Homo sapiens: one gene and its partners. The protein of the gene in region 1 interacts with the protein of each later gene in a biochemical or structural test. Each region holds a gene or a part of one and is shown on either strand. Other genes may lie near its edges. The genes, in order: THRA, C1D, TRIP11 and TRIM63.

Evidence for each region.
Region 2: the proteins of THRA (region 1) and C1D form a complex in vitro, tested with the Homo sapiens proteins (one study listed by BioGRID).
Region 3: the proteins of THRA (region 1) and TRIP11 form a complex in vitro, tested with the Homo sapiens proteins (one study listed by BioGRID).
Region 4: the proteins of THRA (region 1) and TRIM63 form a complex in vitro, tested with the Homo sapiens proteins (one study listed by BioGRID).

What each region holds. Positions count from the first base shown.
Region 1 is NC_000017.11:40,086,933-40,093,507, reverse strand, and holds the end of THRA (thyroid hormone receptor alpha), read right to left. Parts: intron 5,267-6,575; coding exon 5,008-5,266; intron 4,303-5,007; coding exon 4,052-4,302; 3' UTR 506-4,051; downstream 1-505. Other genes in the region: NR1D1 (nuclear receptor subfamily 1 group D member 1), read left to right, coding at 226-425.
Region 2 is NC_000002.12:68,052,968-68,060,004, forward strand, and holds part of C1D (nuclear nucleic acid-binding protein C1D), read right to left. Parts: intron 171-7,037; exon of another isoform or gene 94-170; intron 1-93. UniProt on the Homo sapiens protein: Plays a role in the recruitment of the RNA exosome complex to pre-rRNA to mediate the 3'-5' end processing of the 5.8S rRNA; this function may include MPHOSPH6.
Region 3 is NC_000014.9:92,030,060-92,037,059, forward strand, and holds part of TRIP11 (thyroid receptor-interacting protein 11), read right to left. Parts: intron 3,195-7,000; coding exon 3,133-3,194; intron 1-3,132.
Region 4 is NC_000001.11:26,057,631-26,064,667, forward strand, and holds part of TRIM63 (E3 ubiquitin-protein ligase TRIM63), read right to left. Parts: intron 3,705-7,037; coding exon 3,536-3,704; intron 2,732-3,535; coding exon 2,636-2,731; intron 994-2,635; coding exon 760-993; intron 21-759; coding exon 1-20. UniProt on the Homo sapiens protein: E3 ubiquitin ligase. Mediates the ubiquitination and subsequent proteasomal degradation of CKM, GMEB1 and HIBADH.

The DNA of each region.
Region 1 (6,575 bases):
GATGGGAGGTGACCAGCCCTGCTGAGCCCACGCTCCCAGCTTTCAGGCACCTCCTGCTCTTGGGGCAGAGGCCTGGGAGAAGGTATGGCACTCCTTCTCCTTCCCCATCGGCCTTCTGGGGGGCTTCAGGGAGAGGCTGCATTGCCTGCCAGGTCCTCGCAGACCTCCGGTTCCTCCTCAGAGGAGCTCGGGGAGTCCGCCTCACTGCTGTCGTCTTCCCCACAGACCGCTCGGGCATGGAGAATTCCGCTTCGGTGGAGCAGCTCCAGGAGACGCTGCTGCGGGCTCTTCGGGCTCTGGTGCTGAAGAACCGGCCCTTGGAGACTTCCCGCTTCACCAAGCTGCTGCTCAAGCTGCCGGACCTGCGGACCCTGAACAACATGCATTCCGAGAAGCTGCTGTCCTTCCGGGTGGACGCCCAGTGACCCGCCCGGCCGGCCTTCTGCCGCTGCCCCCTTGTACAGAATCGAACTCTGCACTTCTCTCTCCTTTACGAGACGAAAAGGAAAAGCAAACCAGAATCTTATTTATATTGTTATAAAATATTCCAAGATGAGCCTCTGGCCCCCTGAGCCTTCTTGTAAATACCTGCCTCCCTCCCCCATCACCGAACTTCCCCTCCTCCCCTATTTAAACCACTCTGTCTCCCCCACAACCCTCCCCTGGCCCTCTGATTTGTTCTGTTCCTGTCTCAAATCCAATAGTTCACAGCTGAGCTGGCTTCTGTGGTGTGTGCTCGTTTGGGGGGTGGGGTGGAAATACTGCCAAGGCTGGGGGGGGCCACCTCTCCATCTGGTCAGTTTGTGGGGTGGGTACTCTGCCAGCAGATGGGAGGATATAGGGAAACAGCACACAAGTCTAAGGGGGGTGCCCAAGGGGGTTATTTTCATCATATATTTATTACATAAATATATAGTAAAATAGACGAGCAACAATTACCATAAAAATATCTTTCTTTAAAATCCTGACCCAAAACACAACGGGGTGAAAAATCGCACATAACAGACATACTGATTGTCAACGTGGGGCAGGAGTAGGAGCCCCTCAAGTCACCCCTGCCGGTCCCACCCCTCCCTGGGGAAGAGACCTACCTCCTTCCCTGTTTCTGGCCACAACCCCCCTCCCCCCAGCCCAGCACCAGCTTCTCATACATTCAGTAGCGCCTCTGGGCAGTGTCCCCCTCCCCCCCGCCCAGGAGTTCCCAGGGCAGGAGTTACTGTCCTCCTTATGGACGGTCTCTCTCTCACAACGCCCTGCCCTCTCCCAGCCCTGCAGACCCGCCACCAGGAGAAGGGGTAGGGGCTCCTCCCCCACCCTCCCCAAGTCTGAGCAGGGAGGAGGCTGGATGAGGTATGTGTGTTATGAGTGATGGGAGGGGCAATACTGAGATGGAGAGGCGGGTGGTGGGGGCGGGGTAGTGGTCATGGCTCTGGCAACCCCTTGTCCTGGCCTGGCCCCCTCGTCCTATTCCCAGCAACCCGTCCTCCCACCGATACTGCACCTGCTGCTCCACCCTGCCTGCCCTAGTGCCCCGGGCCAATACTGGGGGAGGCATGCTGAGCACCCACATCAAGGCCATCCCCCTCATTAGCACCAATGGCCCCCAGGAGAGGGCCCTGTCCCCCACTTCCACAGCAGGGACTGGGACAGCTGCCGCTCTAGAGCAGGTGCGTGGCACTCCTGAGTCGCCCTGGCTCCTCCCCTACCATGTGTACTCACTCACACATTCACGCAGAGGAACGCACACATACACCCCACATCACCGAGGGGGAAGGGAGGGGTCCGGGGAGGATGGGATCACAGCTCATATGATTGGGGAGGGTGGGGGAGTCCCAAGTGCCTATAAGAGGCTAAGGCTCTTCAAGGCCTTTTCTCTGCCGTGTCCATGGCTGAGAATGGGGATGGAGGGGTTGGGGTGGGGATGGAGGGATGGGGAAGACAGCAGACAGGTCAGGAATTCCACTGGGCCCCCAGGCGTGGTAGGAAGGTACAAGAGGGCCTACCCATGGGACTGGAGTAATACAGGATTCAGTACTCCAGGAGAGAGAGAGAGGATAGAGACAAAGACAGCGCGGGCAGCCCGAGGCCCCAGCAGGGTGGGACAGGCACATGCACAGGTGACAGCGGGTGCTCCTCCAGGCCCTCCACCCCTGTTGGAACACCTGAACGATTGGGGAAGGACAGTGCCCTGACGGGCAGCATAGCATTGCCTTCCCATGTCCGTGTGTGCATGTCCGTGTGTGTGTGTGTGTGTGTGTGTGTGTGTGTGTGTGTGTAGGGGGCTGTGGCAGGCTGAGGGTCAGGGTGGGGTGGCAGGTTCCCCACTGCTTAAGACATTTTTGCCCCAATAGTGCAAAGCGCAGGAAGCCCTGGCACCCCTCCCCCCACCCCCTGCCCCAATCCCCATGGCTTCCGGGGGCATCTGTGTCCACCCATCCATCCCTGCCGACATGCAGCCCTGAGCCCAGCACCCTCTGGTCTGCTCTGTCCCACCCCACCTCCTGCTCCCATGGGAGGACCACCTCCTCTCTCCCTCTCTCCCCTGAGGAGTGGGCGGCAGCCACAGGGAGGGGGAGGAGGACAGCTCACCCAAGTGCAGACCAACAGAGCACCCTCACCAGGAGGGCGAGAGGGGCTCAAGCCAAAGTCCCTGAATTAGAGAAAAGAAGAGGGGAAGGGGTCCCGGGGCAGAGGGGCAGCTGGCCAAAAGAGCTTTAAAGAAAAAGGAGCACCGACCACCCCTCCCCTGGGGCCCCAACTAAGTGTCACTTATCTAAACACCCCCATTCTGGTACCTGCCCGCCCAGAGTTAGTGCAGTGAGTAGGAGCTGGGGAGGAGGGCAGAGGTTAGAGAGAGCCCAGAAGACAGATGGGAAACAGGGAAACAGAGTGCTAAAGGGGTGGAGGGTTCTGGGAGACGCTCACGCACAGCCCTCCTACCCCCGACCCAACCAATGCAGCAGCATCCGGTTTCTAGCTAATACTGCAGGATATAAGGAGGGTAGGAGTTGGAGCCACAGTTTTTTCCTGGGTGGGTGCCAAGGTGTGGAAGGAGGAGGTGGATGGGGAGAGGCCCCTAGGGCTGGGCACTTAAAGGGGAGCTGTGTGGGCAGCAGGGCAGGCTGGTGAGGGGCCAGCTGGCATCCAGCATGAGAGGTAGATGGAACTCAGCGGGCACGAGTGGCAGAAAGCAGAGGACATACTAGGGTTGGGGGGTGCCAAAGGGGCACAGAGGGCGGGGTATGGCAAGGGGGGTGGCCAGGACCCTGTTGTGTTAACTCACAGCTCTGATCGGCAGCCCTACCCTTGGGGCTCTGGTGTGGGGGCATTTCTCTCTGATGTGGGGGAAGAAGGGGCAGCTCGCAAAGTGCATGGGGTGGTAAAGGGGGGGTCCTCCCCTCTGGTCAGCCTCAGTTAATAACTTAATATCATCTCTCTCTATCGCTCGCTCTCTCTTTTTTGTATTTTTCTCTCTGTCTAGTTTTTCTTCATTTGTCTTCTCCCCTTGCTTGGTTTCCAAAGTGCAGTTAGAATGACTATAAATTTTAACCTCCAGAGGAGGAGCCAAGCCAAGCCGTTCTTTGCACCCAGGCATCTGGGGAAGTAGAGAGGCCCTCAGCCTGGAGGGGAGACCTAGGCCAAGGAACTGGGTGGGGGCTCTCTCTCATGTGTGTGTAGGGGGTGAGTTGAGGGCATCTTCCCCCAGCCCACATTCCTCCTTCCCCTACGGTCAAGGTGGCTTGTCCCTTCTCAATCCTCCCGCCCTTCCCCTACCTTCTGAGAGGATGGGGTCCTGGGAACTGCAGGACACAGCTCCCCCAGCCTCCCACACTGTCCTTTCCATAGCAAGTTCAGTTGTTTGCCCTGTCCCAGGGCTGGAGGTCTGAGGAGGGACCTGGGCAGTGCGGGTGTGTGTGTGGGAGCTGAATCTATCCAAGGACGAGAGGAAGGAGAGAAGGGGTGTGGGGGGGTCTCCCTCAGCCCCCAGCTCTGCCCCTTCTCTCCAGGCTCCTCCCCACCAGCTCCGCACACCCTCTGGCCGCCTGAGGCTTTAGACTTCCTGATCCTCAAAGACCTCGAGGAAGAGTGGGGGGAAGAGTTCGGTGGGGCACTCGACTTTCATGTGGAGGAAGCGGCTGGCGTGGCAGGCCCCGATCATGCGGAGGTCAGTCACCTTCATCAGCAGCTTGGGCCAGAAGTGCGGAATGTTGTGTTTGCGGTGGTTGACGTAGTGCTCGAACGCCAGCAGGTACGCCTCCTGACTCTTCTCGATCTTGTCCACACACAGCAGGCCCGAGCGGTCTGTGAGGGAAGAGGGGCGTGAGGGGCGAGGGGCTGGCCGAAGGCCTGGAGATGGGGAGGGTGAGGTGTGGGGACGTGGGAAGAAAGGACTAGAGGGGAGATAGAGGCAGAGAGGCTGGGGGAGGGGAGGGGAGAAGCTCCCCCTGAGAGACGTGGACAGGAGAAGCACAGGGAGAGGGAGGCAGCTGGGAAGTGGAGAGGGGCAGGGGGGTACTGGGGGGAGGGGGCAATGCAAGGAGGACAGAGGGACAGGCCGGGGGCTGGGGGAGAGAGAGGAGCCTTGGAGTGGGGAGGACTGAGGTTGGTGGTCAGAGAGGCGGGGTGCAGATGGGGTTAGGGAGGGGACTGAGGGGTAAGAGATGGGACTGGGAGACAGAGGAGGGATGAGGGGATGGAAGGTGGCTGAGAACAAAGTGGGGAGTGGGGAACAAAGGGGAATGTGAGTGACAGAGGGACAGGGCAGCGAGAAGGAAGGAGACAAAGACAGGAAAAGGCACAGAGCAGGGATGGGGAGGCAAGGGATGGGCCTGGGGAACGAGTGAGAAGTGTGTGACAGAGCAAGGAACAGGGGATAGGGGATGGCCCAGGTGACAGAGAGGTAGCCCAGAAGAAGATTCAGGAGGGAGTTGAGCAACAGGCCCAGGGTCCAGCCAATCTCTGGGACCCCTGGAAGCTTCTGAGCCCTCCCGACTAATCAGCAGGTACCTGTTGACATTAGCAGCACAGCCTGCAGCAGAGCCACTTCCGTGTCATCCAGGTTAAAGGCAGAGAGTGACTTGCCCAGTTCAAAGATGGCGTCGGAGACTACGCCCAGGCCGCCATTCTTGAGCTGCTCCCGCTTGACAGCCATCTCCCCACTCAGCGTCAGGGTGTCGCTCTCAGGGTCGTAGCGGACAGCCGCCCGCAGGGACATGATCTCCATGCAGCACCCCTTCAGGAGGATGATCTGGTCTTCGCAAGGCAGCTGTGGAGCGGCAGGGCCACAGGAGCACTCAGCATACCCCTCCCCGCGTCCTTGAGTCTCCCCTAGAGTGTCCTACGGGAGCCGTGAGGCCCGCAAGGCCCCCATGGACTCTGAACGGCTGACCTTGTATTGGGCCATGTGCATGCCCTATTCCATTTAAGCCTCACAGTTATGCCTGTGAGGCCCGGCGCAGTGGCTCACGACTATAATGCCAGCACTATGGGAGGCCAAGGCGGGTGGATCACTTGAGGTCAGGAGTTCGAGACCAGCCTGGCCAACATACATGGTGAAACCCATCTCTACTAAAAATACAAAATTAGTTGGGCGTGGTGGCACATGCCTGTAGTCCCAGCTACTCAGGAGGCTAAGGCAGGAGAATTGCTTGAACTCAGGAGGCGGAGGTTGCAGTGAGCCCAGATCGCGTCACTGCACTCCAGCCTGGGTGACAGAACGAAAATCTGTCTCAAAAAAGAAAAAAAAATTATGCCTGTGAGTTAGCACCCATCATTATCCCCAGCCCACTCCAGATGGGAACACTGAGGCACAGGGGATGGAGGTAACTTACCCCAGGTCACATGGCTAGTAGGGCAGCCTGTCTCCAGCACTAGTGCTCTGGAAAATGAGAACTTTCAGGCTGCCTGGAGTTGGGTGGCCGCATAGACTTGAAGGATGAGGGGCTGTGGAGGGGAGCACTTGGAGCCGGCTGATTTCTTAGAGCAGCCAGACCTTGGCGTGTGTCTGTATGCTGTGTGTGTGTGCCTGTGTGTTTGTGTGTGTGTCTGTATGTATCTATGTGTGTGTCTGCTAGGTGTGTGTGTGTGTGTGTGCCTGTGTGCTGGGTGTGTCTGTGTGTGTGTGTCTGTGTGCTAGGTGTGTGTCTATGTATCTGTGTGTCTGTGTGCTAGGTGTATATGTCTGTGTGTGTGTGTGTGTCTGTATCTGTGTGTGTGTGTCTATGTATCTGTGTGGCTGTGTGCTAGGTGTGTGTGTGTGTGTGCCTGTGTGCTGGGTGTGTGTCTGTGTGTGTGTGTGTGTCTGTGTGCTGGGTGTATATGTCTGTGTGTGTTTCTATGTATCTGTGTGTGTGTTTGTGTACTAGGTGTGTGTGTGTCTGTGTGCTGGGTGTATGTGTGTGTGTATGTGTGTCTGTGTACGTATCTGTATGCTAGGTGTGTGTGTGTGTCCGTGTATGTGTCTGCATGTGTGCCTGTGTGCTGGGTGTATGTGTATGCATGTGTGTGTGTGTGTCTGTGTATGTTATCTGTGTATGTTGACCTACAGGAATTGCTCCTTGTCCAGAGAACCTCAG
Region 2 (7,037 bases), on another chromosome or scaffold:
AAACCTCACAGATGAATAAACTGAGCCAAAAGAAGTTAAAGAACATGCCTAAAGTTGTACATGTTAAAATTTCCAAAGAAGAAAAGAACTCACCCAGCTCTGCTCCTCACCCTCCTCCGGGGTTCTATAGGTACTCCTTGCCCTTCCACATACTCCTTCTAAAACACTGGCTGCAGAGGTAGAGACAGACGGAGAGGGCATGAGAAAACTTGCTTCTCTTCACCACTCAGTAAGGTGTGGCTGAGACTGAGTACCTGGGTTGCGGGGATGCTGCCCAGTAACCCTAACAGATGTTACTGCCACTCAGTCCTTCCTCTCACTGGTTATACAGAAGCCAAAGTACCGATAGGAGAAAACAAGAGTGCATAGCATCACATACAGAACTGAAGTCATCAGCTACCTCTTTCCTTTAATTCTCCACTTCAGGGTGGCCAATCCAGGCAGAAACCTGGGAGGCACCCCAAATCCAATCAGTCCTGTCAATATGGCTCCCTTAATCTCCTTACACCACAAGCTTTCCTCTATTCTCACTGACTAGATTATTTCAACAGCCTTTGAGTAGTGTCCCTATTATCAATTTTTCTCCACTCCCAGTTTTAGAATATTACAAAATATGCTTTAAACAGTCTGGTCATGGTACTCCTCTGTTTAAAATTCTGCAACAGTTCCCTCCCACATGGAAGACAGTTCCAAACCCCTCAGCGTAGATGCAAGGCCCATTATGATGTGGCCCTTGCTTGTCTGCCTAACCTCATCTTTCATGGCTCCCCTCTTCCAATCCTAGAGCTGTGGCCATGATGGCAGTTTTCCAAATGTGCCGTGCTCTCTCACTCTCAACTTTCACCTGTGTGATTCTCTAAGCCTGAAATGCCCTTCCAACTCCACTTTTTTCAAACGCTGCTTATCTTTGGAGGTAAAAAATAGGTTCCAGTTCGGCCAGTGAAGACTTCTCTGCATGCTCTCCTTCTATGCTCTCTGTCTGGACAAATACAACAACTATAAGCTGTCATGTCACTTAAAACACTATCTCTTAATGTATTTTTATTTACTTGACTTCTCCTTTGACTACATGCTCCTTGAGGGGCTGTGTCATATTCATGTTGTATCCCCAGTGGCTGACACACAAGGTGACTATAACTCTCAATTTGCCCAAGACAGTTCCACCTTACGCCTGTTGTTTCAGCTTGCCATCAACTCAGCTCCTTTCTTTCTCAGAAGTCCCAGTTTGAACAAAAAATTATATGGCTACCCTAAACAATGCAAGTTCTCTGACCCTTACTACCGCTTCCCATCCCATTTAGCTGGAGAACAGAAGCATCAGAGGAGTTACCCTTTGCACCAGTCAGGTTTCAACTAGAGAAGCAGAACCAGTAGGAGATATATATTAAGAGAGTTATGGCAAGAAACTGGTTTACATAGGGCAGGCTATGAAGGGAGGAACTCATGCTGGAACTCTTGGCTACTAGCTGAAACTGCTGTCTACAAGTGGAATTTCTTCTTTTTTGGAAGGAAAACCTCAGCTCTGCTTCTAAAGCCTTTCAACTGATTGAATCAGGCCCACCCAGATGATCTAGAATAATCTCCCTTACTTAATTGATTATGGATTTTAATCATAGCTTCAAAATACTTTCACAGCAACACCTACATTCATGTTTGACTAAATATCTGGGGGCTACAGCCAAACCAAGTTGAAACATTAAAAAGACAATCACAGCCAGGCACCATGGCTCACATCTGTAATTCCAACACTTTGGGAGACTGACAGGAGGATCACTTGAGCCCAGGAGTTCAAGATCAACCTGGGAAACACAGACAGACCCATCTCTAAAAAAAAAAAAAATATTTTTAATTAGCTGGGCGTGATGGCATACACCAGTAGTCCTAGCTACTCAGGAGGCTGAGGTGAGAGAATCACTTGAGTCTAGGAGTTCGAGGCTGCAGTAAGTTATGATTACACTACTGCACTCCAGCCTGGGCAACAGAGCAAGGCCCACATCCTTTCTTTTTTTTTTAAAAAAAAAAAAAAGACTATTGCACTAAGATGCATTCCTAGCATCAAAAATATTGTTGCTCTGACAATACTTTCCCACAACAAGCTTATTTTGATTATCAGGTTCCCAAGTAACAGAACTAGACTTCAAATTCTAGCTAACAAATGTAGAAGAAATGACAACTTAAAAAAGAATCACGACTTTGCAACGCCTAATGAAATTGTAGGTTTAGTCAATGACCACCAACAGATCACTAAAAGTAGGTGAAATGCACATATTATGAACCTCCTGATGTGAGGCAATATAACATACACAGCACCATCTGCAAAGCATTCCCAACTCCCAAAAAAGCTGAATCTGAACAATTAAGCCTACAGAGCTAACTTCCATTTTATAGGAAATCCAAAGGATAGAGGAACAAATTAACACCACAAGAAAGCAAACAAATATGGAGTGAGAAATACAGTACTCTACAGGATAACTGACCAGGTTTCCATAACAAGTCAACAGCATGAAGCAAAAAAAAAAAAGTGGGGGAAGAAAGACAGAGGAAGAAGAGATTTAAGAGATGTAACAACCAAATGAAATACACAGACCTTGTTTGGATCTTGATTCAAATAAACCAAGTGGAAAAAGATAGTTCTGTGAGAAAGAAATCTGAACATGGACAAAGTACTAGATGACACCAACAAATTATTGATAATTCTGTCATCTATGATAATAGCAATACAGTTATATAAGAAAATTTCCCTGTCTTTTGAGGATGCACACTGAAGTATAGAGGGGTAAAATTATGTAACATTTTGAATTTGCTTAAAAAAAAAGTAGCCTCCACAAATTATTACAACTTTGAGAGCAAAGATAAGAACCTATGTACATTATTTCTATAGTGAAATTAGATGGCTAACTCACAAACTAGCTTTTAGAATACAACTCCGTTCATATATAGGAGAATAACTAAAGAGAAGGTGTCGTCTAGAATATTTAAGCAGCTCCATTACATCTCATTTCAATTCCAAATATAACTGGAGTGAGGGAGAGGAAGGTTACTGGGTGCTCACTACATCTGTGATAGTTGCTGAACATATAGTCTCAAATGAAGTTTGTATTACTAACATTTCCAACAAAAGGCTCACATTCTAGAGTGTCTATTTATTTCAAGAGTATCACAAAAATCCTTTTGAGACAGAGTCTTGCTGTCTCGCCCAAGCTGGAGTGCAGTGGCTCAATCTCAGCTCAACGCAACCTCTGCCTCCCAAGTTCAAGCAATTCTCCTGCCTTTTACAGGTGCGTGCCACCATGCCCAGCTAATTTTTGTATTTTTTTAGGAGAGACGGGGTTTCACCATGTTGGCCAGGCTGTCTCGAAATCCTGACCTTGTGATCTGCCCACCTCAGCCTCCCAAAGTGCTGAGATTACAGGTGTGAGCCATCGAGCCCAGCAAATTCCCTTCTTTAAAAAAAAAATCCTAATTTCTTGTATTTTTACCTGGCCCTTAAAAATGCAGGCAAAATAAACAAATAAACAAACACCCAAGACTAATGTCAAATAAAAAACTAAAAAAAGACATATGCAACACAAAGATTTTTTTAAAGCCTCTATGAATCAATTTAACAATAACAAAAAAAGTACACACAACCCAAAAGAAAAATAAACAAGAAAATCAACAGTTCACAAATAATCCAGATGACCAATAAGCATAAAGAAAGCTACTCAGCCTTACTGATAATTAAGGAAACATAAATCGCTAAAATATGATGCCATTTTCATCTGTCAAATAGGGAAAAATTAAAAAGATTAATAGTACTAAAATGGACAAAGGTGAGCTGAGAACAGCCTCCCATTCACTATTAGTCAGGGTATAAATTAGTTTAGCATTTTTGTGAGGTAATCTGCACTATGCTTCAAAATCACATATGTACACATGCTTTGACCTAGCAATTTTACTTCTCAAAGTATATTTTAGCGCAAGATAATGTTTAAGGACTTCCACTGCAATGATCTTTAAAACAGTAAACTTTAAAACAGAACAACCCACACATCCATTATTAGAACCTGGTTAAATAAATTATGATATGCCCACCTATTAAAATACTCTGCAGTAGTGAAAAGGTACGAGGTACAGCTTAGAAAGATTCCTAAGATATATTAAGTGAACAAAAGTTGAAGAACAGCATGTATAATACATCCTATTTATTTATTTATTTATTTGAGTCAAAGTTTCGTTCTTGTTGCCCAGGTTGGAGTGCAGTGGTGCGATCTCAACTCACTGCAACCTCCCCTACTGGGTTCAAGTGATTCTCCTGCCTCAGCCTCCCAAGTAGCTGGGATTACAGGCGTCCACCACACCTTGCTATTTTTTTTTTTTTCGTATTTTTAGTAGAGATGAGGTTTCACCATGTTGGCCAGGCTGGTCTCAAACTCCTGATCTCAGGTGATCTGCCTGCCTCAGCCTCCCACAGTGCTGGGATTAGAGGCGTGAGCCACCACGCCCAGCTCATCCCATTTATTTTGAAGAAAAAAAGATATATGAATGTGGAGGCATATTTGTATGGTATATGCATGTAAGTTTTCTTAAAGGATCCAAAAGAAGCTGTTAACTGTGGTCACTTCTGGGAAACAAAAAGCAAGAAAGTGAGGAAGTACATTTTGTTACACTCTCTGAATTACAATTTTTAAAGAATAAAATATGTAACATATTATAATAATACTTAAGTTTATAAATAAAAACTTCGATCATCTCAAATTTTGAAATTTACTTTATTCTCAAACATACCAGATAAAAATGTCATTTCCCCCTACTTAGCAGCAACAACTAAACCTATATTCTTTACCACTGTTACATTCAAAGAACCATATAAATGTGTTTTCTACACCTAAATTGTCTAGCCACCAGGCGGCTATTTTCCTCTATTCTCATGGTACAAAAGCCTCCTCTGGCCTGCTTGCTACATGGCCATACCTCCCAGTCAACTGGTTTAAAGATGCTTTTGCAAGTTCTCATCTTCTCTTTCTGCCCCCAGCCAACCATTCTAGCTCTAGGCCTACTGAACATTCATTCCTAACGAAATTCACAAAAGACATAAATTAATGCTACCCAACTGCAACAGGTCCTCTGTCAGTTGCCTGACAGTTCCTTTATTTATCCCTGATACCTCCTCAGCACTTATTGCAAAATGTCATGTAAATGAGTAATATTTACTGAGCATTTACCACATGCCAGACACTAAGGACTCTCTTATTCAATAGATATTTAATTAGCCTCCATGATAGGCAGCCCTGATACTTGGAAGATAATAGTGAGCAAAAACTTGCCTGCTCTGCACTTACTGTTTAGTGTGGATGATAGACATTAATCAAAGAATCACAGAAATATAAAATTACAACAGTAATATGAAGAAATAAATCATGCTATGAGACTATAAACTAGTGTACATGACAATCTGAGGGAAGACAGAAAGCTTCCTCAAGAAAGCACTCGATGACAGAGATGAATTAAGCAGACAAAAACTGTAGTGCGGGCAGAGAGAGTTCTCACAACTCTACGACTGGGCACTAATATTAGCTTCACTTTACAGATGGCACAACAGAAACAGGTCACAGGGCTGGTAAGTGGTAAAGTTCGGCAGAATGGAACTCAAATCGAATGGAGGAGGAACATCCCTCACAAATCCCATCAGTGGATTTGTGTGGGATGCTCTCTGGACAAAATCTTTAATACAACATATAAGGTTTGTTCCTCCCTGAAAATCTATTCCTCTAACCCTTCCAGCCTTAACTCCCATCTTTACCCTATTCCCCAACATCACACTCAACTTCTGTTCCTGTCACTACTCCACGTGACTAGAATCTCCGATTTCCTTAGCAACATTCAGCAGGCCTGGAGCTACCGAACATGGGGCATTAGCAAGTGGCCACAGAGGAAAGAGGACTGACAAAAGCATCTTTAAAACAGCTAACTGGGAGATGTGACCATGAAGGAAGGGAATTGAGGTCCTGTCATAGTCCTTTCCCTCTACTTGGAATACCCGTGTTCCTCCGTTTTGCATTGCTATGCAGGAATACCTGAGGCTGGGTAATTTATAAAGAAAAGAGGTTAGATTTGGCTCCCAGTTCTGCAGGCTACACAAGAAGCATAGTGTCAGCATCTGCTTTTGGTGAGATAAAGGGGGAGCAGGCATGTGACAGGGCAGGAGAAGTGGCAAGAGAAAGAGGAGCTTCCATGTTCTTTTAAACAACCGGCTCTAGGAGTGAACTAATAGAGTGAGAACTCAACTCATTACCTCAAGGACAAACCAAGACATTCAATCTGCCTCCATGACCCAAATATCTCCCACTAGGCCTACCTCCAACACTGGAAGTGACATTTCAACAAGAGATTTGGAGGAGACACATACCCAAATCATATCAACCTCCTCTTCATAACAGTCTCCATTTTCTTGGCCTAGTGAAACTTATCAATCCTTTAAAACCCACCTCAAATGCTCCCTCCTCTATAAAGGTGTCCATACCTCCCAAACAAAAGTGGTCTCTTCTTCCTCTGCTCCCAAGGTTCTCTGAATATAACTGTAATACAGTTATCACACTGGTGTGCAACTATCTGCTTGACTTAACATTATCACATATCTATCAATAACACTCCTTAAGTTCTTGATAAATCCAAAGGTGTCAATCTTCATTTCACCTGATCCATCAGCTGCACCTGACAAAACTGAACATACTACTCTACTGTAAATTCTACAACACCAGACTCAAAATTGTCCTTGTCCCTCACTGGCTGCTCAGTCTGTCTCATTTGGTGGTTATTCCTCATTTTCCCAACTTGTTAAAATGCCTAAGGACTCAGGCCTTGTGCCCCTTCTCTTTTCTGTCTACATTTACTCCTTTAACGACTGTCTCCGGTCTCACAACTTTAAATACCATCTGTTCACTGACAATTCCCAAACGTCTGTTTCCAGCAATGACCACTCTGAAGTCCAGAATGAACATATTCAACTGCCTACTCAACATCTCCACTTAGATGACTAACAGACATCAAAAACTTAT
Region 3 (7,000 bases), on another chromosome or scaffold:
AGTGGCGGGCGCCTGTAGTCCCAGCTACTTGGGAGGCTGAGGCAGGAGAATGGCGTGAACCCGGGAGGCGGAGCTTGCAGTGAGCCTAGATCCCGCCACTGCACTCTGCACTCCAGCCTGGGCGACAGAGCGAGACTCCGTCTCAAAAAAAAAAAAAAAAAAAAAAGAATTGATGAGTGAATAATATATTTTTAAGAACAAAAAAGAAATATGGCTTTCAGATCAATTAGTCATTCAACAGGAAAATACTTCACTCTGCATTATTTTGTGACAAGGACTTAAACCATTTCATTTTGCTAAGCAGATACATGACAGTATTCTTTTTTTATTTTTATTTTTTATTTTTTTTGAGAGTCTCGCTCTTGTTGCCCAGGCTGGAGTGCAATGGTGGGATCTTGGCTCACCGCAACCTCTACCTCCCAGGTTCAAGTGATTCTCCTGCCTCAGCCTCCCAAGTAGCTGGGATTACAGGCATGTGCCACCACGCCCAGCGAATTTTGTATTTTTAGTAGAGACAGGGTTTCTCCATGTTGGTCAGGCTGGTCTCGAACTCAGGTGATCCACCCACCTCGGCCTCCCAAAGTGCTGGGATTACAGGCGTGAGCCACCATGCCTGGCCATGTGACAGTATTCTTTCATCATGTATATTTGTACACCAACATTTACTTGATATGTTCATATGTAGAAGGCTGAAAGCAGGTGTGTACACAAAGGCAACTGGGAGGAAACAGATGACACAGAAATGAAAAAAACTCAGTGGACTGATCATTCTAATTGGCATTTATAAATCTAAGAATAAACATGCTTTTGAAATTATAGAGCAAAGATGACAGCCATCATCTCTTCAATAAAATCATGAGCCATTAAAATTTTCAAAAGTATTGCTTTTAATGACACAATCAAGAACCAGGCTGGGCATGTGGCTCATGCCTGTAATCCCAGCACTTTCAGAGGCCAAGGTGGAAAGACTGCTTGAAGCCAGGAGTTTGAGACCAGCCTGGGCAACAGAGCAAGACATCGTCTCTACAAAAAATTTTATTTATTTATTTATTTTTTTATTTACTTACTTACTTACTTATTTATTGGAGATGGAGTCTTGCTTAGGCTGGAGTGCAATGGTACGATCTTGGCTCACTGCAACCTCCACATCCCGGGTTCAAGTGATTCTCCTGCCTCAGCCTCCCAAGTAGCTGGGATTACAGGCGCCCACCACCATATCCAGCTAATTTTTGTATTTTTAGTAGAGACAGGGTTTCACCATGTTGACCAAGCTGACCTCAAGTGATCTGCCCACCTCAGCCTCCCAAAGTGCTGGGATTACAGGCATGAGCCACCGTGCCTGGCCTATTACAAAAAAATCTTTAAAAATTAGCTGGGTGCGGTGTTGCATGCCTGTGGTACCAGCTACTCAAGAGGCTGAAGCAGAAGGATCACTTGAGCCCAGAAGTTCAAGGTTGCAGTGAGCTATGACTGTGCCACTGTATTCCAGCCTGGGCAAAAAAGCAAGACCATGTCTCAAAGCAACAACCACAACGAAAAGAACTAGAAGTAATAATAACCTGAAATCTATTAGAGAGGTAACTGAACTTTGGAATCAATATTTTACAAGATAAAGATATTCCAGGTTATACAATTAAGGGTTAAAAAGCAGTTCACTGAATTCAAAGAACATTGCTTATTTTGAGTCTTTATGCTTTCAAAACCAGAAAAAAATTAAATAAAAATTTGGATTTGCTGTATTTAAATTATTAAAATGTCTTTTTCTTTTTTTGATACAAGGTCTCACTCTGTTGCCCGGGCTGGAATACAGTGGCAGGATCACAGCTCACCGCAGCCTTGACTTCCTGGGCCCTAAGATCAGGTGATCCTCCCACCTCAGCCTCACAAGTAGCTGGGACTACAGACACCCACCACCACACCTTGACTAATTTTTTTATCTTTATTTTTTGTAACCGGTCTCAAACTCCTGGCCTCAAGCCATCCTCCCACCTCCACCTCCCAAAGCGCTGAGATTACAGGCATGAGCCACTGCGCCCAATCTAGACCCTAATAATGAATAAAACATTAAAATTAATTTGCTATTCCTGTATCCTTTTTTTCTTTTTTTGGATGGAGTTTTTCTCTGTCACTCAGGCTGGAATGCAATGGCGTGATCTCGGCTCAGTGCAACCTCCGCCTCCCAGTTTCCAGCAAGTCTCCTGCCTCAGCCTCCTGAGTAGCTGGGATTACAGGTGTGCACCACCACATCCAGCTAATTTTTTTGTATTTTTAGTTAGAGATGGGGTTTCACCATGTTGTCCAGGCTTGTCTCAAACTCCTGATCTCAAGTGATCCACCCACCTCGGCTTCCCAAAGTGCTCAGATTACAGACATGAGCCACTGTGCCTGGCTGCTATTCCTATATTCTTAACTTTTTTGTATCCAAATATTATTATCATTTTAGTGTTTAAAAAGCTCCAGGTTAAACAGAATTGCATTCTTAATATTATACTTAGCTGGGCGTGGTGGCTCACGCCTGTAATCCCAGCACTTTGGGAGGCTAAGGCGGGTGAATCACGAGGTCAGGAGTTTGAGACCAGCCTGGCCAATGTGGTGAAACCCTGTCTCTACTAAAAATACAAAAATTAGCTGGGTGTGGTAGCGTGCACCTGTAGTCCCAGCTACTCGGGGGGCTGAGGCAGAAGAATTGCTTGAACCCAGGAGGTGGAGGTTGTAGTGAGCCAAGATAGTGCCACTGCACTCCAGCCTGGGTGACAGAGTGAGACCCCGTTTCAAAAAAAAAAAAAAAAAATTATTCTTAAATAAATGTGCCACTGCAATTTAGTATGCTGTTAGAACACAGTAAACTCTGGATTATGATAAATTATTGATACTATTATTTCTACATTTGGCAGTTTTCCTACTTATACAGAAATAGAGATGGGAATATTAAAGAATAGCAAACTGCAGTAACAGGTAAATATATTTTTCATCTACAGAAGGTTGATAAAAGCTCAAAAAACAATCAAAATTAAACAAGAAGAGAAAAAAAGTGCTAAGCAGTACATTTAAAAAGAAAGGATCAAAGTAATGTTTGAGTAACCTTCATGACTTCAAAAAAGAAAAATCTAAGTAGTCTTTGATTTTTCTTACCTCTGATCTCAAGATTGCATGAATGGCTTCAATTTCCTTTGTCCTAGAATCAGGTAATTCTGCTACAAGAGAAATAACAAATATTGAATATTTAATCAATACCATATGAAGTAATAAATAGGTATTTTCAAGAAAATATATTTCACTGAGTTTACACAGAATAGTAGGCTGATATGAAAGCATTCAGAAGAAACAAATCGCTTTATTTCCATAACAACTTTTCACTGACACTAATGTTCTTCATTGTCATAAAAGTCATTCTTTTTGCCTATGCCCTGTATCTTAGGATGTCTACCTTTACCCCTTAGAAATGTTCATTAGAATTTTGTTGTGGGAAATTAAGCTTTAGAAATTAAAACTATTTCTCTGTGGGCTAATGCTGCTATAATTTTAGATGAAGCTTACTCAACTGGGGCTTTAGGCCTTATTTCTAACTGTAAGAATTAAAGAAAGAGGAGAGAAACACAAAGGGTGGCTTGCCAGTTAAGACAGGTTTATTTTAGAGAAAACAAACCTGAGAGGGGTGTTCGGCTGAGTTAGGTTAGAGGCACACTCTTTTCCAGACTAAGAGTTTTTAAGGATTTAGGGTGGGAGAATTTATTAGAGGCTTAGACTGCTTCTGTGTTTTTTTGTAGTGCTTATCTGGGAGGGAGAGTTGTGTATTTGTTCCATTTATTCTAGAGCTGCAGGCATACCCCCCGAGTCTGCTTTAGCTTCCCTATTTTAGTGCACCTGAAGGGAAAGGAATGTGCTTTCTAAGGCCCACTGCTTTACTGGGGCCCACTGTATGAGAGTGAAGTTTGGCAGTTACCCAAGAGACTTTACCCCCACCTCCCTTTGTGCCCGAGCACTCCCTCTGTATGTGTTTTACTGTCTGCTTTTTCTGGCTGCTTGTAGTTAGAAGAGAAGTGACTTCCTTGAAATGCATGAGGCTAGAAAGGGAGCTGGAGGTCAGGTACGGTGGCTCACCGCCTGTAATCCCAGCACTTTGGGAGGCCAAGGTGGGCGGATCACGTGAGATCGGGAGTTTGAGACCAGCCTGGCCAACAGGTAAAACCTCGTCTCTACTAAAAATACAAAAATTAGCCGGGTGTGGTGGCACACGCCTGTAATCCCAGCTACTCAGGAGGCTGAGGCAGGAGAATTGCTTGAACCTGGGAGGTGGAGGTTGCAGTGAGCCGACACTGTGCTACTGCACTCCAGCCTGGGTTACAGAGTGAGACTCTTGTCTCCAAAAAAAAAAAAGGAAAGGGAGCTGGAACTTAAAGTGGCACTGTTTGTCTGAGATAACAACAGTGCTCCTGCTCTGTCACTAACTTCTGCTCTCAATACTATCAAATAATAAGTGACCTATAAACGAAGAAAAATACACTGAGAACACTTATTTAAAGTAACATAGACACAATTTATTAAAAATGGGAATGAGCTCAGTCTGGTTTTCTACATTTTCATCTTTATTTTTTAATTTTCTTGGAAAGGGTCTCACTTCACTCTGCCACCTAGGCTGGAGTATAGTGGTGTGATCATGGCTCACTGTAGCCTCAAACTCTCTCGCTTCAGCCTTCCAAGTAGTTGGAACTACAGGCACATGCGACCACACCTACCTAATTTTTTTACTTTTTTGGAGAGATGAGGTTTCACTGTGTTGCCCAGGCAGGTCTCGAACTCCTAGCCTTAGGGAATCCTCCACACTCAGCCTCCCAAAGTGCTGGGATTACAAGTGTAAGTCACCATGCATGGCCCTTGGTTTTGTACATTTTCATTTAAAAGTAGAGTGAGAGCCCAGCAGTGTCAACATGGCACCACTAATGCTGTTAGAAAATCATCATCTGGCTGGTCTCGGTGGCTCATGCCTGTAATCCCAGCACTTTGGGAGGCCAAGGCAGGTGGATCACTTGAGGTCAGGAGTTCAAGACAACCCTGGCCAATATGGCAAAACTCCATCTCTACTAAAAATACAAAAAAAAAAAAACTGGCCAGTCATGGTGGTAGGTGCCTATAATCTGTAATCCCACCTACTTAGGAGGCTGAGGCAGGAGAAATTGCTTGAACTGGGGAGGCAGAAGCTGCAGTGAGCCAAGATCGTGCCACTGCACTCCAGCCTGGGCGACAGAGCAAGACTCGGTCTCAAAAAAAAGAAAAGAAAAGAAAATCATCATCCAGAGTTAGATTTTTTTTCTAAGTACTAGTATTTTTTTCATTACTCACAGCTCTTTAATATAAAAATAACTTATCTGGACTACAGTTTATTAGGAGTGTCCAATCTTTTGGCTTCCCTGGGCCATACTGGAAGAACTGTCTTGGGCCATACATAAAATACACTAACAATCGCTAATGAGCTTTAAAAAAAAAAAAATCGCAAAAAACCTCATTTTTTATTTATTTATTTATTTATTTTTTTTTTGAGACAGAGTCTCGCTCTGTCGCCCAGGCTGGAGTGTAGTGGCACAATCTCAGCTCGCTGCAACCTCTGCCTCCTGGGTTCAAGTGATTCTCCCACCTCAGCCTCCCCAGTAGCTGGGACTATAGGCCTGCGCCACCATGCCCGGCTAATTTTTGTATTTTTTAGTAAAGAGACGAGGTTTCACCATGTTGGCCAGGCTGGCCTTAAACTCTTGACCTCAGGTGATCCTGAGGCCCTCCTCAAAGTGCTCCCAAAGGGCTGGGATTACAGGTGTGAGCCACCGCGCCCAGCCAGAAAAACTCATAACATTTTAAGCACGTTTATGAATTTGTGTTGGGTCTCATTCAAAACCCATCCTGGGCCACATGTGGCCTGCAGACCACAGGTTGGACAAGCTTGGTTTAAATCAAAAGAAGCATGCAGTAATTACAGTGACAAACACTCTTGTTTAGAAAATCACCAGGTAGGGTTACATCTGTGGTTGGTTGTACATCTTGCTTGAAACTATGAAAGGACTGTTTAATTGCTACTCTGAAGAGGACAAGTTATAATCTAATTTGTTTAGGAAGGTAATTGTTAAAAGCAGCAACTATTTTAAAGAGGGATTTTACAAGTCCATGCAAACTCCACACCTCCCCCAACAAGAAAAACTTGGCCTTTTTAAGTACAAAGGGGAGATATTATGCAGACAAAAATATTCTGACTTTGTCAATAAGGGCAAATATGACATTTACCATTCATTAATGTTTACGATTCGGTAGACACAATTCCAGGCATTTTACACTCATGATTTCATTTAATCCTCTCAACCTCACAATAGGTATGATTATCCCTATTCAACATATAAGGAAACTGTGCTTTTGGAGGTTAATTTCTAATAATTTGCCAAAAATCCCACAACTTGTAATGCACAAAAGCAGAATTTCAACCCATGTCTCTCTGATTTAAAAGCCCAAGCTCCTAACCTTGAATAAATCAGTAGTGTTAGGTAAAACTGCAACCTTCTGATATTGTAAATATGGATGGCTTTCAAGTTGTCCACATAGTGCTATTTTGGAACTGTTTTATTTTTCATTACTGACACAGGGTAAACACTAATAAATACTTGTTCAATGAATAAAAGAACTGTACTCTGACCCTCCATTCCCTTTATTTTTTTAGACAGGGTCGTCTCTGTCACCCAGGCTGGAGTTCAGTGGTGCAATCGCAGCTCACTGGAGCCTTTAACTACTGGGCTCAAGCAAACCTCCCATTTCAGCCTCCCAAGTAGGTGAGACTACAGGCACATGCAGCCATGCCCAGCTAAAAACTTTTTGTAGAGATGAGATCTCCCTATGTTGCCCAGGCTAGTCCTCAACTCCTGGCTTTAAGCTATCCTCCCACTTTAGCCTCCCAAAATGCTGAGATTACAGGTATGAACCACACCTGGCCAGACCCCTATTTTTAAAAATTTACAAAATCAAT
Region 4 (7,037 bases), on another chromosome or scaffold:
TTGATGAGTTGCTTGGCAGTCTGCAGGGGGAGAGAGAACAAAGGATTAGGACCGCAGAAGAGGTAACCGCAGGAAATCAGCAAAACTAGTGAACTAGGTGTTGTAGGTAGATATTTGGTGCCATTCCCTAGCCCAGTTGTGACCTGCTCCCCACCCCAAACTGAGCAGAATCTGGAACTTTTCCCTCTGTCTGTGGTCTGTACAGGTCTTGGTCATCACCCTAGGACCCACTGTCTTGACAGGAAGCTTGGATTCTAGGGGTATCAATCCCAAAACTCCTAAACCCTGAACTCCCCAATCCTAACCACCTTTTCATACCTAATGTCTAGCAAAAAGCCTGGCCCACAGTAGAAGCCTAGAACATTTTTATTGAACTGAACTATGAAGTCTTATAACTGAGCCTTTTCTGTCCTCCCCAACAAGCTCTTTGAGGGCAGGGCTGTGTCTGGTTTATCTCCTTGTCTTCCACCTCAGTGCCTGGCCTACAGTAGGGGCTCAATTAATAGTCTGTAGATGGGACACTGTATTTTGCAGCTTACAAAGTCATTTCATAAACATCCTCTTATCTTATCATCATAAAATCAGTAAGAGGAAGGTGGGGGGTGTTACATGCCCATTTGACAGATGAGGAAACTGAGGCTCACAGAGGTTTAAATGGCTTTTCCAAGGGCCCATGGGTGGTCAGTGGGGAAGCATAACTTGAACCTTAGAGCTGTAGAGTTGAACTGACCCCACCCAGACCCTTCTAGTCCTGCTCACCAAGAGGAAGGTGGCTCCCCCAGGCTCGTCCAGGGACTGGATGGCAGTTTCCACCAGCTTTGTGGACTTGTCCAGCTGCTCCTGGTACTGCTGGATGAGGGCCTCGATGAAGCTAAGCTTTTTCTCCTGCTCCTGCGTGATCCGCTGCAGCAACTCACTTTTCTTCTCATCCAGGATGGCATACAACGTGTCAAACTTCTGGCTCAGCTCTTCCTTTACCTGGTGACTGTTCTCCTGAGGACGGAAGTCTTGTGGTCACGTTCTGTAGGGTCTTTATTCCCTGCCCACTACACTGCCTTCCTAGGACAGTAGCAAGGAATCTAAAGCTAGAAGAGATCTCACTACATACATCCCCACACTACAGAAGAAGAAACAAAGACTTAACAAGAAGAAAACACTCATCTGGCCTCACAGCTATTTAGTACGCCAGTGATATTTGGAGGATGATGCCTTGAAAAACAGCTAGCCCCTTCTTCCAAAATAGAGGCTCTAGGGTCACATGACACAACATGTTCTTCCTTGTTCCTGCACCCTCCCCCTGTCCCCCAACCTCAGCTGGTCATTGGAGCATCACCTCTTAGACCAATGCAACAGTCACCCAATGTGGGATCTGCCCTGTCTTTCTCTGTTGCCCTTTTTTTTTTTTTTTTTTTGAGATGGAGTCTCGCTCTGTTGCCCCCGCTGGAGTGCAGTGGTGCGATCTTGGCTCACTGCAACCTCCACCTCCCAGGTTCAAGCGATTCTCCTGCCTCAGCCTCCCGAGTAGCTGGGATTATAGATACGCTACCACGCCTGGCTATTTTTTTGTATTTTTAGTAGAGATGGGGTTTCACCATGTTGGCCAGGATGGTCTCGATCTCCTGACCTCATGATCCACCCAGCTTGACCTCCCAAAGTGCTGGGATTATAGGCATGAGCCACTGTGCCCAGCTCTCTGTTGCCTTTTAGCTGTGTTTCCCTTTTAGCTGTGTGACCTTCAACAAATTAACGTTTCCTGGGCCTCCCATATGTCCCAGTTCACACTCTTCCCTCCCTTTCAGGACCAAGACTGGATTCGGGAAGCTCTGCATCATTTGGTCCTAGGAGAGGTGGAAAAACAGCTCCTTTCCTAGCACCCTCCTCAACCGAAGCTCCCTTCTCTCTATGTTCTTTTCTATAAAATGGGTGTGACAATAGCATCTCATCAGACCGGGAGCCTCTCGTGGGTGATCACAATGTTCCCCTCCTTCCTACCCTTCGCCCAACTCTTCATCCACTAGCAATTATGATGACCCCTTCCCCTCATCTCATCTCCAGATCCCTACCCCAAGTGAACATGGAAAATCGTGGAAGCTTTTTTCAGGGATAGAAAAGTTCCCTTCTGCCCTCAACAGTCTCACTACTCAACATGTGGTCTGTGGACCCAGCAGCTTGGGCAAATCCTGGGAACTGGCTAGAAATGCAGCTCTTATGCCTCATTCCAAACCAACTGAATCAAAACCTGAATTTCAACATGATCCCAGCGTAATTTTCACGCACTTCAAAGTTTGGGAAGTGTTGGTCTACAGCACACTGAAGAACTGTGCTCTGAAAACAATTTGTGCTGAATAAATACTGAGAATTATTGATGGGACACTCCCTGAGCTCAGGGACCACGTCTGTCTGGTTCACTCCTCCATCCCCCACATCTTGGGTGGGGCCGGACACACAGCTGTGCTTAAGAAGCATTTGTTGAGAGACTGGATGAATGGATTAGTCCCTCCCCTGCCATCCCTGCTTGACCGCCCCAGGCTCCGGGCCCCAACCTTTAGCCACAACCTATGGGTGAGCCTTCCCCAGAGACCAGGCTGCCCTGGAAAGCTCCAAATCCCCAGGCAGGACTATTCTGTCCGCTCACCTTGGTCACTCGACGGGAATCCTCCAGCTGAGTGATGATGGTCTGCACACGGTCATTCCCCGCCACCAGCATGGAGATACAGTTATTCAGTTCAGTCTAGATGGGGGTGTGGGGGTCAGGAGAGGAGAGACACAAATAGCCTCAGGGCCTACCCACTGGGGCATGGCAGCAACATGGCTTCCTCCCTCCCCTCTCTGCTAGAAAGAGCCTCCAGTAGGGATCTGGCCCCTCTTTCGGGTATAGCTCAGCTCCAGAGTAGAGGATATTAGAAAGATACTGCATCCCTTATTTTACAGGTGAGGCCAACAGCAGGCAAGTGAGCTGCCCAAAACACACAGCAAGGAACTGACAGAGGAGGGGCTTGTTTCTAAGAAAGAAGGGACAAAAAAAGAAATAGAGTTGGAGACGTCTAGAAGAGAGAGACCTAGAGAAGAGTGGGGAGTAGGGAAGAGAGAGTATGGAAAGGGGGTGGCTACGGCTTACTGCACGGACAGGGTGGTGGGCCCTCACAGGCCCAGGGACCCAGGGAGAAGGCTCTAAGCTGCCTCCTGCTGTGGGGGAATGTGAAGTCTTGGAGAAGAGGTGAGAGGCACAGGAAGAGGTGTCTGGGGGATGGAGAAGCCGTGGCCTGAGAGGACCCCAGTGGCCTGGCTGGGGCGTCTGACCGCTCCCCTGTGGCCACACCCAGGTGCTCTCGAGTGGCTCTAAGTATAACCATGAGCTCAGCTGCCTCCCCTAGGAAGGCCAGGGCTGCTGTCCCTGTGGCCTGGGAAGTCCCTCCAGAGAGACTATTCCTGAAAGGCCAGATCAGCAGATCTACAGGGATCAAATCTGCCTCCTGAATCATCAGGCCGTGCCCAGCAGGCCCAGGCTGGGGGTAAAAGTGGCTGGAGACAGTACCTTTTGTCCCTGGAAGACACTCTGCAATGGGGCCACCTCGCAGGCCTTGTGGATCCCAAACACCTTGCACATGGAGCAGGTGGGCACCTCACACGTGAGACAGTAGATGTTGATTTTCTCATCTTCGTGCTCCTTGCACATGGGGTGACTGCCCTTCTGCAGCGGCCGACTGCAGTGGAGAACAGTCACAAGTCATGGGGGTCCTGTGTCCCTGCATCCCCCTCCCCAGCTCCAATGCACCAGTCGCAGCTACTGGGGAGGCTGAGGCAGGAGGATTGCTCAGCCCAGGAATTCGAGGCTGCAGTGTGTCTGTGAATCTCCAGATTTATGCCCTGGGCCCTCAGTGTTTGGCTGCCCTAAAATCTTTCATCTTCTGGGGACCAAGGACTTGGGAAGCCAATGACACCAAATCTGTCCCCACATCCTAAGAGGGAGTTAGCCTGAGGCTCTGCCAGTGCCAAGGACACAGAAAGGGCCATAGAATTCCAGAGTCAGACCTGGAGATGTTTTAGAGAAGAGGAAACTGGGCTCCAGAAAAGTGAATTGACTCGTCCAAGGTCATACAGCAAGTAAGGGCAGAGGAGCCTAGAGTTCAGTTGCTCTAATTATAGTCACCTTAGCTTTGGTTACTGCAGGCTGGGCTCTGAGCTGAGAAATTTATACTGATGGCCTCATTTAATTCTATATTTAATCTACCAGACTGTAACCTCCATCAAGGTAGGGAAACTTGCCTGTTTTCTTCACCCCTGTGCCTACACTGTACAGTGCCTGGCATAGAGGAGGTGGTAATTAAACAAAGGTAGAAAGAATAAATCAATAAGGCTGGGCGCAGTGGCTCACGCCTGTAATCCCAGCACTTTGGGAGGCCGAGGTGGGAGAGTCACCTGAGGTCAGGAGTTCAAGACCAGCTTGACCAATATGATGAAACCCCGTCTCTACTAAAAACTCAAAAAAATTAACCAGGCATGGTGGCATGCACCTGTAATCCCAGCTACTCGGGAGGCTGAGGCAGGAGAATCACTTGAAACCAGGAGGCAGAGGTTGCGGTGAGCCGAGATCGCACCATTGCACTCCAGCCTGGGCAACAAGAGCAAAACTCCGTCTCAAAAAAAAAAAAAAAGAAAGAAAGAAAGAAAGAATAAATTAATAACTAGCATAGGAATCAATAATATTCACCATCTTGAATTTATTAACATTCTCCATAAGAAAACAATTTTTTTAAAAAAGAATATTCACCACAGAGTCAGTCATACCCTCTCTCTTTCTCTTAGCTTCACCACTTTCTAGCTGTATGGCCTTGGATAAACCTCTGACCCTCTCTGAGCCATGAGGTTGCCCCTGAGGCTCAGAGAAGGAGCAGTGTGTATGCCCCATGTCATGGTGACTGGTGAGTGGGTAGCCCAGGGCTGTCCAACAGCCCAGCACAAGCCTGACTTCTAGTCCAGAGATTCTTTCAAAGGCCCAAGTCTCTTCCTCTACTTTCTCCCCTAACACATATGCTTAGAACTACCTTTCTTCCTTGAGACCTCCAACCTGTTATTTGTGCTTCTCTTGGGACATCAGTCATTTCCTAACCTAGATTCATTGGGGCCTGGGGGGGATTTTTTTGTTGTTGTGTTGTTCTGTTTTGATTTTTTGCCCAGGCTGGAGTGCAGTGGTGTGATCTTAGCTCACTGCAAACTCCACCTCCTGAGTTTCTGATGCCTCAGCCTCCTGAGTAGCTGAGATTACAGACGTGCACCACCATGCCCAGCTAATTTTTGTATTTTTTAGTAGAGATGGGGTTTCACCATGTTGGGCAGGCTGGTCTCAAACTCCTGGCCTCATGTGATCCACCCACCTCAGCCTCCCAAAGTGCTGGGATTACAGGCGTGATCCACAGCACCCAGCCTTTGTTTGTTTGTTTGTTTGTTTGTTTGTTTTGAGACAGGGTCTCACCATATTGTCCAGGCTGGAGTGCAGCAGCGATTCACAGATACACTGCAGCCTCGAACTCCTGGGCTGAGCAATCCTCCTACCTCAGTCTCCCCAGTAGCTGCAACTGGTGCATACCACCATGCCTGGTGTAGATTCGATTTTTTGAGTCTTCTGTCTCCGGCTAGACTATACACTCATTGAAAGCCAACACTACCTTCGATTCCCAGCCCCAAACAGAACAGGCATCTTGCAAATGTCAAATGGTGACTGTTCCCATCAGTGTCAATGCCTCACCTCCAAACAGCCTTACATGACTGATCACACCCTGGGCTCTATTGTCCTCTGAAGTTCTTAAATATGCCCCTTTCCAGGCTTGTCTTTTTGCATAGTTTACCCCAGGGTCCCTATGCTGGCAGGGGTCTGCCATTGCCACCTGCCTCCATCCCCTGATAAAGGGATGGCAGGGAGTGCAGAGGTGAGGCAAGAGCCTGAGGGTCTGGTTCATGCGCCCGCAGCCCTCCCAGATGCCCACCCTCCCAAGCTCAGACTTTGGCATCGGGGTTCATATCCAGATTGTTCTCTTACATTCATTTTTGTGATTTTGGACTAGTGATTTCACCTCTCTTGCCTGTGGGATTCCTCCCAGAACTACTGCAATCTGTCTGTAGAAATTGTCTATAATGAATGTAGAGTGCCCGGCACAGAGCAGACCCTCAATAGAGGGCAGCTGTCATTGTCATTCAACTATGCGGAAAGGCCTCAAAGGTTCACATATAACATGCTCTTCATAGGTCGGCACTGGGTAGGCTAACATTGGTGTGGAATTGATTTTATTATTCCTTATGATCAACAATATGTTTGCATTTTGTAGTGTTGTGCTCTAGCAACATGAGAGGCAATCTAGCTCAGCAATTAAGAATATTCACCGGCCGGCCAGGCGCGGTGGCCCACGCCTGTAATGCCAGAACTTTGGGAGGCCAAGGCGGGCGCATTACCTGAGGTCAGAAGTTCAAGACCAGCCCGGCCAACGTGGTGAAACCCTGTCTCTACAAAAAATACAAAAATTAGCTGGGTGTGGTGGTGCACGTCTGTAATCCCAGCACTTTGGGAGGCTGAGGCGGGCAGATCACCTGAGGTCAGGAGTTTGAGACCAGCCTGGCCAACATGGTGAAACCCTGTCTCTACTAAAAATATAATAATTAGCTGGGCACGTTGGCACGCATCTGTAGTCCCTGCTACTCGGGAAGCTGAGGCTGGGGAATCACTTGAACCGAGGAGGTGGAGGTTGCAGTGAGCCAAGATCGTACCACTGCCCTCTAGCCTGGGCAACAGACCAAGACTCTGCCTCAAAAAAAAAAATTAAAAAAATAAAAAATATTCTCACACCCTCTCTCTCTTAGCTCTACCACTTGCTAGCTGTGTGGGCTTGGACAAATCTCTGATCCTCTCTGAGCTTCCATTTCCTCATGGTAAAATGGAGACAGGAATGCCTTCCCGGGTTACTATGAGAAGCAGATAGGAAAAATGCCTGAAAGTACTTAGAACAGCGCCTGCACACAATAGGTACCCAATAAATGGTTGATAC